Linked DNA regions of Homo sapiens: region 2 is linked to region 1. Evidence: fine-mapped expression QTL. A gene starts in region 1. The other region holds a variant in brackets. All regions are shown on one strand. Distances are between the middles of the regions. Region 1 holds the start of POLA1 (DNA polymerase alpha 1, catalytic subunit). Region 2 overlaps POLA1 (DNA polymerase alpha 1, catalytic subunit).

What was found.
Region 2: its variant is fine-mapped to the expression of POLA1 in substantia nigra (GTEx, PIP above 0.99).

The regions. Positions count from the first base shown.
Region 1 is chrX:24,690,711-24,696,090 of GRCh38, reverse strand. POLA1 (DNA polymerase alpha 1, catalytic subunit) reads right to left here and starts at 2,173. Exons shown (of 37, transcript NM_001330360.2): 1 at 2,087-2,173. The coding sequence starts at 2,129. RefSeq lists enhancers at 1,912-2,001, 3,704-4,204 and a silencer at 2,192-2,351.
Region 2 is chrX:24,994,066-24,999,445 of GRCh38, reverse strand. POLA1 (DNA polymerase alpha 1, catalytic subunit) reads right to left here. Exons shown (of 37, transcript NM_001330360.2): 37 at 2,460-3,641. The coding sequence ends at 3,496. Among named protein-coding and RNA genes, the nearest start is that of ARX, 19 kb to the left of the region's middle. RefSeq lists enhancers at 1-391, 1-496. The variant T/C (reference allele first, on the strand shown) is at 2,779.

The DNA of each region.
Region 1 (5,380 bases):
AGCAATATAGGAGCGGCTCATGTAACGCTTCCGCGTGTGAAGTCAAACACACATCCACATACCCCACACACACCATACCTAAGAGTACCAAGGTCTAGCTTTAGAAGGCAAAAACAAAGCAAAGCCGTTTTCTGCATATGATTAGATGTTTACCATCTGTACTTCATGAAGACAAACCATGTCCAGCCTACCCACCATCATAATGCCAGAGCCTGGCAGAAGGCTTATACCTAGTAGGTATATAATAAATATTTGCTGAATGAACCAATGAATGAACCACTGTACCTGCTTTTTTGATCATTAAACTTTCCCTGGCCGGGCGCAGTGGCTCATGCCTGTAATCTCATCACTTTGGGAGGAAGAGACAGGTGGATCACCTGACATCAGGAGTTCAAGACCAGCCTGGCCAACATGGTGAAACCCTGTCTCTACTGAAAATACAAAAAATTAGCCGGTGTGGTGGTGGGCACCTGTAATCCCAGCAACTCGGGAGGCTGAGGCAGAACTGCTTGAACCCAGGAGGCAGAGGTTGCAGCCAGCTGAGATCACGTCACTGCACTCCAGTCTGGGCAACAAGAGGGAAGCTTTGTCTCAAAAATAAATAAATAAATAAAAATTCCCTGATCTTTTTTCATATATAGTAACAGCTAGTTACAGACCTTTCAACTTTTCACTGCCATTATCAAGGTGCCCTGCCTGCTAATACTGAAGAAAAAAAAAAGCCTACATTTTGTTTTTTGGAGTATGTCTCCAATGCTTCACGTAGGTAACTTAGCAAAAAAAGAATAAGCATGAAAAAAATCCAGCTACAAAGGTTTAAATATTTGTTTCAAAATTACCATCTGGAGTATCTCTATCCTCCCCAAAAGCAGACAGACACTAGCTTACAGCAGTCTTTCAGGTAACAATCCTTCAGTCTGCTCTAAAGGAAAAATTCCAGTCACAAGTCCCCAGCAACTACTTAATGAACACCATGACCTAAGAGGAGTCTCAAGATTGCACAGTATCCTCCAAAGTGATTTCCTGATGTTCATAGATGACGTAGTTTTTAGGATGAAGAAAGGGCTTAGTGGCAAATCACTGATAGAGGCCTGCAAAGACTGTTCGTTCACATACTTACACCCAACATCCTATCTGTAATCCAGGCAGGTCGACTCTCCAAAATAGTCTTAAAAAACGAACGGCTAGAACAAATTGAAATCTGTGACTCACAACTAGGTGAATGCAAAGGAAGCTGATTAGGAAGCGAGTTCTCATTAATGGTGATGTATCTGAATGACAGGAGAGGTGACGCTTGAGCTAACAAAGTGAAGCATCTGATTTTAAGTTAGAAGTTAACTGAAGTCACGCTTTAGTTGAACACTTAAAAAATCAGACAAATCTATTTGCATTTTTGTATTCTATTTTTGGAAATAAAAGACACCCCTGACAAACGGAGTGATATACAGGGGATCCGAAATGCCCTAAATTGATGCCATTTTTTTGAAACTTCACCAGGAATGACTAGATTGTGAACAGGATTTCTACGCAGCACTTGAAGAACTTTCCAAAGAATCTGAAAGAAAAATTGTTAATGCATAAAGTAGAAACCCATTACCTAAAAATACAAAACGCGTTATTCCCCGATGACAGCACTTAGAGCTTTCTTTCCTGCTTAGTTACAATGTATAAAATTTTCCTGGAAGTTCCTACAAAAAGGGACACAGATCTGTTCTGTTCAAGCCTTCAAGTGGATACTTAGGGAGATCGCAGTGAAATACTTTCGGCCCCACGGGGCCAGTCTCAATAAAGTTATACCCAGCACGTGGGTGCAACTCACCAAAAGAAATAGAAACGCAATCGACTGTGGAGACTCTCAGTGGCAGAGGTGAGACAGCCTCCCAAACAAAAATCCCTCCAGGCTCTGGTCCTCCAAGAGCAAACCGCGCCTAAAGGAAGCCCGGTCCGACGCCAGAAGGGCCCCCGCCGGGGACGACCAAGGTCTGCGCCCAAACAAACCCGGGTGTGCGCCTCCCTCAGAACCCCCACCACCGGCAATCATGCCACTGTCCCAACCCGGAGCCCCGCGCGCGGAATTGTCCCTCACCACTCGCCCCTATCTCACAGTCGTCGCCGTGCACAGGTGCCATGGTCCCGAATCTCCCGATTCCGCGCCAACCAGCCCAAAACTGGCGCGGGGGCCGAGACAGGCGCCAGCCTGAAAGCCAATCAGCGGCTCGGGAGGCTGCGGACTTCCGGCCGGAAGGCCACTGACGTGCCGCGCCGCGCCGCGCTCCGCCCCCGGCCTTCCCGCGGACGCGCGTTTGGCGCCCTGTGATGACCCCTTAGGGAAAAGCTAGAGCTGAGGGGAAGCCGGAGGAGAGCAGGAGAAAGAAGCGGTCGGGCGCTGGAAAGGAGCCGCCTGGAGACTGCGCAAGCGCACGCATGCTGATGGGAAAAGATTTGGGCGCGTGGGAGAAAGGGCGCTCTGGTTCTCAGAGCCCATTTTCCCGGAAAGGAGGCGCGGGCGGGCAGGAGAGTGGGCGTGGTTGGATCGTTTTCCCCAGAGCCGGGAAAGCGACTGCCTCCTGCTGCGCGCCCTGAATTTTGCCTGATAGTTTGCTTCTCAGCAGTCTGGATACAGTGGCTGTGTGATTAACAACTTAAAGATATATGCTCCGTCTTAACCAAATAACCAGAAGTAGCATTACCAATAAATGGCCATCTGATCTCATATGCCTCCTGATGTAATGCGTATGAAAAAGGAAAAACTTCGCCTATATGGTCTTCTTGCAAAAAATGTCTAACCTGAATCTAACCATGAAGAAACAATCAGATGTATTCAAAATGTAGGACAATCTACAAAACACCTGACGTGAACTCCAAAATTTCAATGTTATGAAAAACAAAAAGGGTATTCAATTTTTGTGTATGATACAATGGCTGTAATGTGTACATCTCATGTTATCTCTTTCCAAAAAGGTATAACATTTTTATTAAATAATGCCTGCCACACATTTGTATTTTTTCCTACATTATTGCCCACATGCTTATTGATCCCTTCTTCATGTGACAACAATTTTGTAATATTTTCTCCAAAGAGGATATAAAGATAATTCAATCTGTCTTCTAGCATGGTTGATCAATACTTGTTTCTTAATTTCTGATTGTTTAGAAAATGTCTTTCAGCTTCATAATCATTTAATATCATGTTATGTGATCCATATGTTGTGATACATAACATGTAGTAATTTACACTTAGACATAACTTCCTATTTAAAGTACTACGACAGATTTATTCCTACACTTCCCTTTTAAAAACTGATGGAAGTTTTATAGTTTTATTATCAAGCTTTTTCCAACCAGGAGAGAACCATGTTGGCTAGTCATTAATAAGAACCAAATCCTTACCTTAACAATTTCACAGCTGATTACTTCCCACATGCCCGGGTATAACTCTAGGCATTTCAAACCTCTTTTCTCTTTCACTACTGCTGTGGTCTGAATGTTTCTCTCCACATAAAATGTATGCGTTGAAACCTAATCACCAGTGTGGTGGTGTTAGGAGGTAGGGCCTCTGGGAGGTGATTAGGTCATCAGCAGGAACCCTCCCTCATGAATAGGATTAGTGCCCTCGGAAAAGAGGCTCCAGAGAGCTGCCTTGCCCCTTCTTCCATGTGAGAACAGAGCAATAAGGCACCATCTATGGACCAAAAAGTGGGCCTACCCCAAACACTGAATCTGCCGGCACCTTGATCTTGGAATTCCCAGCCTACAGCACTGTGAAAAATAAATTCCTGTTGTTTATTAGCCACCCAGTTTGTGGTATTTTGTTATAGCAGCCTGAACAGACTGAGACAATGACCCACATACTTTGTGGGAAAAGACCTGTAGGACACTTTCTCTTTTTGAGATGGAGTCTCGCTCTGTCATCCAGGCTGGAATGCAGTGGCACCATCTCGGCTCACTGCAACCTCCACCTCCCAGGTTCAAGCGACTCTACTGCCTCAGCCTCCCGAGTAGCTGGGATTACAGGCGCCCGCCACCACACCTGGCTAATTTTTGTATTTTTAGTAGAGATGGGGTTTCACCATGTTGTCCAGGCTGGTCTTGAACTCCTGACCTCAGGTGATCCACTCATCTCAGCCTCCCAAAGTGCTGGGATTACAGGTGTGAGCCACCATGCCAGGCCAGACACTTTCATACCATGATATGTCTTCTGGCCCTACACTTTCAGTTCAAAACTCCTGGTAAGTCATCACACTGGGGTAGAAATATTCCTGGAAGCTATTCCTACACCAAGAAGTCTATGAATAACAGCCCGGCGCTGTGGCTCACGCCAGTAATCCCAGCACTTTGGCAGGCCGAAGCTGACAGATCATGAGGTCAGGAGTTCAAGACCAACCTGACCAATATGATGAAACCCCATCTCTACCAAAAATACAAAAATTAGCCGGGTGTGGTGACAGGCGCCTGTAGTCCCAGCTACTTGGGAGGCTGAGGCAGAAGAATAGCTTGAACCCGGGAGGCAGAGGTTGCAGTGAGCCGAGATTGTGCCAGTGCACTCCAGCCTGGGTGACAGAGTGAGACTCTGTCTCAAAAAAAAAAAAAAGTCTATCAATAACTTAAGTATATATGGCTTAAGTATATATGTGGGTTAAGTGCCTTCGACCCACATAAATAGAAGAAATAAGCCCAAACTAAATGCAATATCAACTCCATTTCCCCATAGTGGAATCCCAAAATGCCTATGCCTATTTCACTGCTACTATGCAAGAAGCGAAGTGTATCAGAGGGACAGTTGGAGGTTCTCAAGAGCTGATTGTTAAATATTCCAGTATTTTGTAATCTCCATGTTAAACTGTTGGTAGCTTGAAATCAGTCATGGTGGGAATATTTACACCCTGGAAATTGGCAAGTGGTACAAATCAGAGCTTTTTATTTTTTTAAGGTTTACCAGCAAACCACCAAGTGGAAAGTAGTCATATCTGATTGCAGCTAAAATATCTTACTTTTGTAGATCTACCATTTGATCCAGCAATCCCACTCCTGGGTATCTACCCAGAGGAAAAGAAGTCATTATACATGATAGATACTTGCACGCGCATGTTTACAGCAGCACAATTTATAATTGCAAATATATGGAACCAGCCCAAATGCCCATTAATCAACAAGTAGGTTAAAAAAAGTGAGATATGTGTATATATACATATGTGTGTGTGTATATATCTCACACACACACACACACACACACACACACACACACACACCATGGAATACTACTCAGCAGTAAAAAGGAATGAAATAAAGACATTCGCAGCAACCTGGATGGAATTGGAGACCATTATTCTAAGTGAAGTAACTCAGGAATGGAAAGCCAAACATTGTGTGTTACTCGTAA
Region 2 (5,380 bases), 300 kb before region 1:
GAGATGAGTTAATCTATTAAACTGCTATAAGGAAGCTCCACCACAAACTGTTCAATTAAGAAATATTTAGGTGAGAGGGGGTGAGAAAGAGAGAGAGAGACAGAGAGAGAGAAGAAAGAGGGGGCGGGAGAGAGACAGTGAGGAGCAGGGAATGGCAGCTTTAAATTTGGGATGGGAGCATCGAATTAAAGGGTCGGGCATCCTGACAAGAGGGTCTGGGGCTTGGTGTTTTTCTTAAAACCCTAAAACAAACAGGAAAATCTGTTTTTGGAGTTTCCTTACTGTTGCATCTTCCGCCAAACTAATTTTAAATGATGTTTGAAGAAGTATATTGAGGAGCATGGTGTGTGTGTTGGAGGTAAGAGGTAGTAAGGGCTGGAGAAAGGGGTGATGGTGAGGGGCAGTGAATTCATTCCCTTTCAACTTCTCCCAAATTCCAGTCTTGGAACTTTGATTAACCCCCACATCCTGGGCAACAGTCACAAGATTAACTCCATCTGTTTTCTGGACAAATTAAAATCTTATCAAGCATACTCTGTGGGATTTTCCACTTCTGGCCCCCCTCTATGCACCTTATATGTAGAAGAGTGGAGGGTTAGCAGATTGTGTCCAAGATAAGCTTGTGTACAAGTATCTGCTACAGGTAAAATCCTAGTTCCTAAATTAAACAGAAAAAGTGCCCTTTCCAGAGGCAGGGGGCTCTGAGAAGAGCAGGGTTCTTTTAGGGTATAATTTCCCAACTGGCCCAGATAAACTTTGGCCCAGAGGTTTACTCTGGCCCACACAGAGTTTAAAGTTTCATTTTAAAAAATTAGTTGTCAAGGTTTAGAAATCAGTAAGCTTTGTGGAATATTTGGATTCCTGGCTTCTCTTGAAAACTCGATCATGTGGCCATACTGGGCCCTGTCCCTCCCAGCATCACTGAGTAGCTGCTGGCCCCTTTGGACAGGACCTGCTCACTCCTGTTTGCCACAGTCCCTGCCACTCACTCTAGTGTGAACCTGGTTTGCTTCATCCATTCACTTTTAGAATTTGAGTTTAGGACACGTGCCGGAGTCCATGGAGACCTGCAGGTCACCTCTCCCCTTACAAATAAGATGGGCAAAGTTTCCGCATCAGTTCTGCTGGGTGCACTATCAACCACACAAATCAAGGAGTAGAAACATCTCTCAGAGAAAAATAAGTATGTGATACTCCCAACTTCTAACAGAGATTCACTGGAATTCTTAAAGTTGCAGTTTCAACTTTCCACAAAATTCTGGAATCCTTAGGTGCCTAGAGTTCTAACAGATCCCAATAAGAAAACATCAACTGCTGCATTAGCTTTTTTCGGGGACAGTACTTAGAAATGCCTCACATTCTAGAGAAATGGTCCTTGCCCCCAGGGTGTTTATAATCTAGAGGCAGGGACAAGAAACAATCCAGTGAGAAGTTACTTGAGTCTCTTGGAGTTTCCTGATGACCAAGTTCAGGGTAACTATTTATATTTAATATAATCCCAGATCCCAGAAATCAAGGAAAACATGACTCCCCTTCAGAAAGCACACTTTAGAAAACCATCTCTCTAACCTTATGTGAGAATAGCAATTACTGAAAGAGTTGACCAGGGGAGCAATAAAAACACATTAATCCCTTAGTTCCTGAAGCACCTTGGGTGCTCCAGTTTGTGACAGGCTGCAGAGCTTACACAGTAGCAAGTTAGTTAATTAACTGACAGGGCTCGAAACCCACAGTGTTTCTACTTAGAATCTCAGTCTAAGAGCAGGAGGAGAAAGGAGAGGGATGGGAGCCAGAGGGGAGGTGAGGAGGAGAAATAAAAAGAAAAAGCAACATAAAAGGCAGCTTCATCTCCACTGCTTAACCCATCAGTATTCCTTCACTAGGGGGACCTTTTTTAGGGGGCGCCTTTGTCTCAGGAGCCCTAGGCCTTGCTCTTCAAAAAGAGATGCTGCTGGGCTCTTGGCTTGGCTCTCTAAGTCAGCAAAGCACGTAAGAAACCATACTTCATCTCTTAAATGACCTAAAGTCACAGAAATTCTGAATGCTTCTCAGAACATTCGACCAAATATCATGCTGTGCACTCCTGAGCTGGGTTCTGATAGAGGTGGCTATGAAGAAACTGGGCTGAGGTTTGAAAAGGGGATGGCCTCTAGTCATATATATATATATGTGTATATATATGTGTGTGTATATATATATATGTGTGTGTGTATGTATATGTATATGTATATGTATATGTATATGTATATGTATGTACGTGTGTATGTATTTAGAGGTGGGGGCCTCACTATGTTGCCCAGTCTGCTTTGAACTCCTGGGCTCAAGCCATCCTCCTGCCTCCACCTCCCGAGTAGCCAGGACTACAGGTGTGTGCCACAGCAACTGGCTCTACTCACATTTTACTCCTTGCTGCCTCTCTAGTCAACTCTTTGCACCTGGTAAGGATTCACCACAACTGCTTTCCCTTTAGAAAACTTTATTCTTAAGAAGAAGGCACAACATACTTTTTCTTTTATAAAAACACACAGGTCAATGTTTTTTAAAAACACAGCATAATTGTACAAGGGGAAACATTTTGTTAGTATAATCTTACCAATAATGTAAGAGAGGAAAGACTGCCATACTGAAATACATTTTGCTGCTGCCAAAGACGGTCCTATTGTGAAGAAATGAGAAAAAAATAGCAAGCGCCAGGGCCAATTAAGCATCCCTCTCCCCGTTTTTCTGAATACAACACAGTGATCCTCACCGTAACCCCTACACATGTTAATGGATTGT[T/C]AGAGTATCAAATTATTTTCAATGTGCTTTCTTGTTGTATAAACCTTTACCTGCACTTTCTATTTAAGGGGCAAAAAGGGAATGTGAGTGTAAAACACCTGCTCAGTGTGTGTCTGTTGGACTTTGGAGCAATTCAACAAACAAGCCTGCTCTGTTTAATCTATTTAGTGAGTGCAAGGCTTCTAAATCTTCCCCCTCAGCTACCTATATAAAAGACAAGACTGAAAAGGACAGCCACTCCTGGATGGCTGGAGAAGCATTTGGATTTAGACCGGGTTTAATTGGCATATGAAAAAGCAAAACGTCAGCTCTTCAGTCAGGCTCTGAGAAGCTCTCTTTATGTGGGGGGGACATAGGCTAAAGGCCCTGAGGCAAAGCCTGGGGTCACTTACATTCCAGCTACTCTCAATCCAAGTAGCAATTTCCCTCCCTCAGAAACCGGGTCTTCAGGAGCTTGGGGAGGGGAGCTTGGGGAGGGGCTCTGGAGTTGTGTTTTAAAGCAGTACATCTTAATATGAAGACAGGAATTTCTATGATGCTTACGAACATTAGACTCAACATTTTTGCAGCCCCCTTTCCTGGTCTACATTCACACAAACATGAGACACAGTCCCAAGGGAGAAACAGATGCTGGAGGAGCATTTAGGGCCAGAGTGGAGGCACAGAGGAAGCTGGGATTTTTCAACTACCCCCTCCTTGGTTACTCCTGGGATTCCCTTAGGATTTCACGGCACAACCAGCGAAGAGTTTGCTCAGATTCACTTCGGAGTAGCCACTTCGGGACAAGAATTGCTCTGCTGTGTTCTTGAGTTTTCTGTAGTCCTGCAGAACTTTGGGGGTAAAAAATTGCTTCTTCAATTTATCTAAAAAGAGAGAGAGAGAGATTAGAAGTCTCAGGTAGTTTCTTTAAAGAACATTCAGTATTCCACCAGAGAAGGGGATGCTGATTCCATTTGTATCTCCACCATCTTATCTCTGGTCTACCCCTGGGGCCAGTCAGATGCAGCCCCCGCCGACCATTCCTCTGTGAAAGCTTTTCTTCCTTTCCCCTGTCTGTCCGCCTCTCAGCACCTAGCTGACTCAGTGCACTGGGGGACAGGGCCACCCTCTACTGATGTGAACTGCAGGTGCACCCTCATGTGCAGCAGACAAGGTGAGCTCTACTCGCAGACGCCACTTTCACCGGCGCTGCGAGCACATGCATGCAACTGCTTGCGAAGTCTGGACGTGGCAGGAAACACCTAGTCTCAAAGGGAGCTATGGCCTCTGGTGCCTTCCAGCCCCAACTCCCCAGATCAGCTGGGCCTAGTAAGCATTTTCTAGTCCCTCCAGCCCAAGTCCCTCTGCTAAACAAAATTTCCTTTGCTGAAAGAGGCGAGAGGTGAGCGGCCCCGAGGGCACCTGTCTGTCCATGGCCAAGATTTCTTTGCTCTTCTTTGTCCACACTGTGTGAACTCAGGGTATGCGGCACTCCTGCTCCTTTAACCCATTCATCCCTGGCCTTTCCCTTCTGAGCAGGATGCTACCAGCCAGAGAAAAGACCCCTCTCCTTTCCCTTCCCAGAGCCTGCTACTTCTACATGTTGTTTTTTTTCTTTCTTTTTTTTTTTTTGAGACAGAGGTTTGCTCTTGTTGCCCAGTCTGGAGTGCAGTGGCGCGATCTCGGCTCACCGCAACCTCCGCCTCCCGGGTTCAAGTGATTCTCCTGCCTTGGCCTCCCAAAGTGCTGGGATTCCAGGCGTGAGCCACTGCGCCCGGCCCTACATGTTGTTCTTTTAAAGGAGCAGTGGGGCTGTGATGCTCAGGTCTGATCTTTTGGGTGAAGAGAGTGATCACGTGGGGGATGACGCTGTGTTCAGGAACCTGGTAAGGTGTCTGGAGAGGCTGCTTTCCCCGCGCCCCCCCCACCCCCAATCCCCATTTGATGGCTGAGGAAACTGGGAGGTTAAGTCACTTACCCAAGGTTACACAGCAGGTAATCAGAGTTGTAGACACGCAAACCCAGGTAGCCAGAACCCCCAGCCCGCACCTGAGGAGAGGCTCACTTCTGCCCACTCCCCCTGCCACTACATCACTACTCCCACATAGAAATTTGCAGGCCTCAGACATCAGCTGATCCTGAGGTGAGGCCTCCGCCCCCATAAGATGCTGGCCTGTGCCAAAGGGCCTGGGAGCAGCAAGGCTGCCCAGCACCTCCCGATAGGAACCGGTCAGGAAGGAAACACGGAGGGGAGAGCGCGCCACTCACAGAAAGCAAACCTCCAACAACAGCAACACGGGAAGTCTACAAAACACCCGGAAAACGAAAACTCAGACTCCAGATTTTTGTTTCTTGGCTATACATTCGCATTTGCTCTCCACAACCTTTTCTGAATTACATAAGTTGTCCTTTAAAGAACAACCACAGGTTTTATAGAGAATTAAAATGCCCAAAAGGGGTGGAAAAAGAGAGGGGGGCTGCAACAGAAAGACAATTTGAAAGTTCTAATGATCTGAGTCTGGGAATAAACAACAATGGCCCCAACCAGTGTCGGCTGCCTCCCGGCAGGCCAGAGCCACAGGCCAGCAACCCCGTGCATGTGAATGACACAAATGCATCTGAT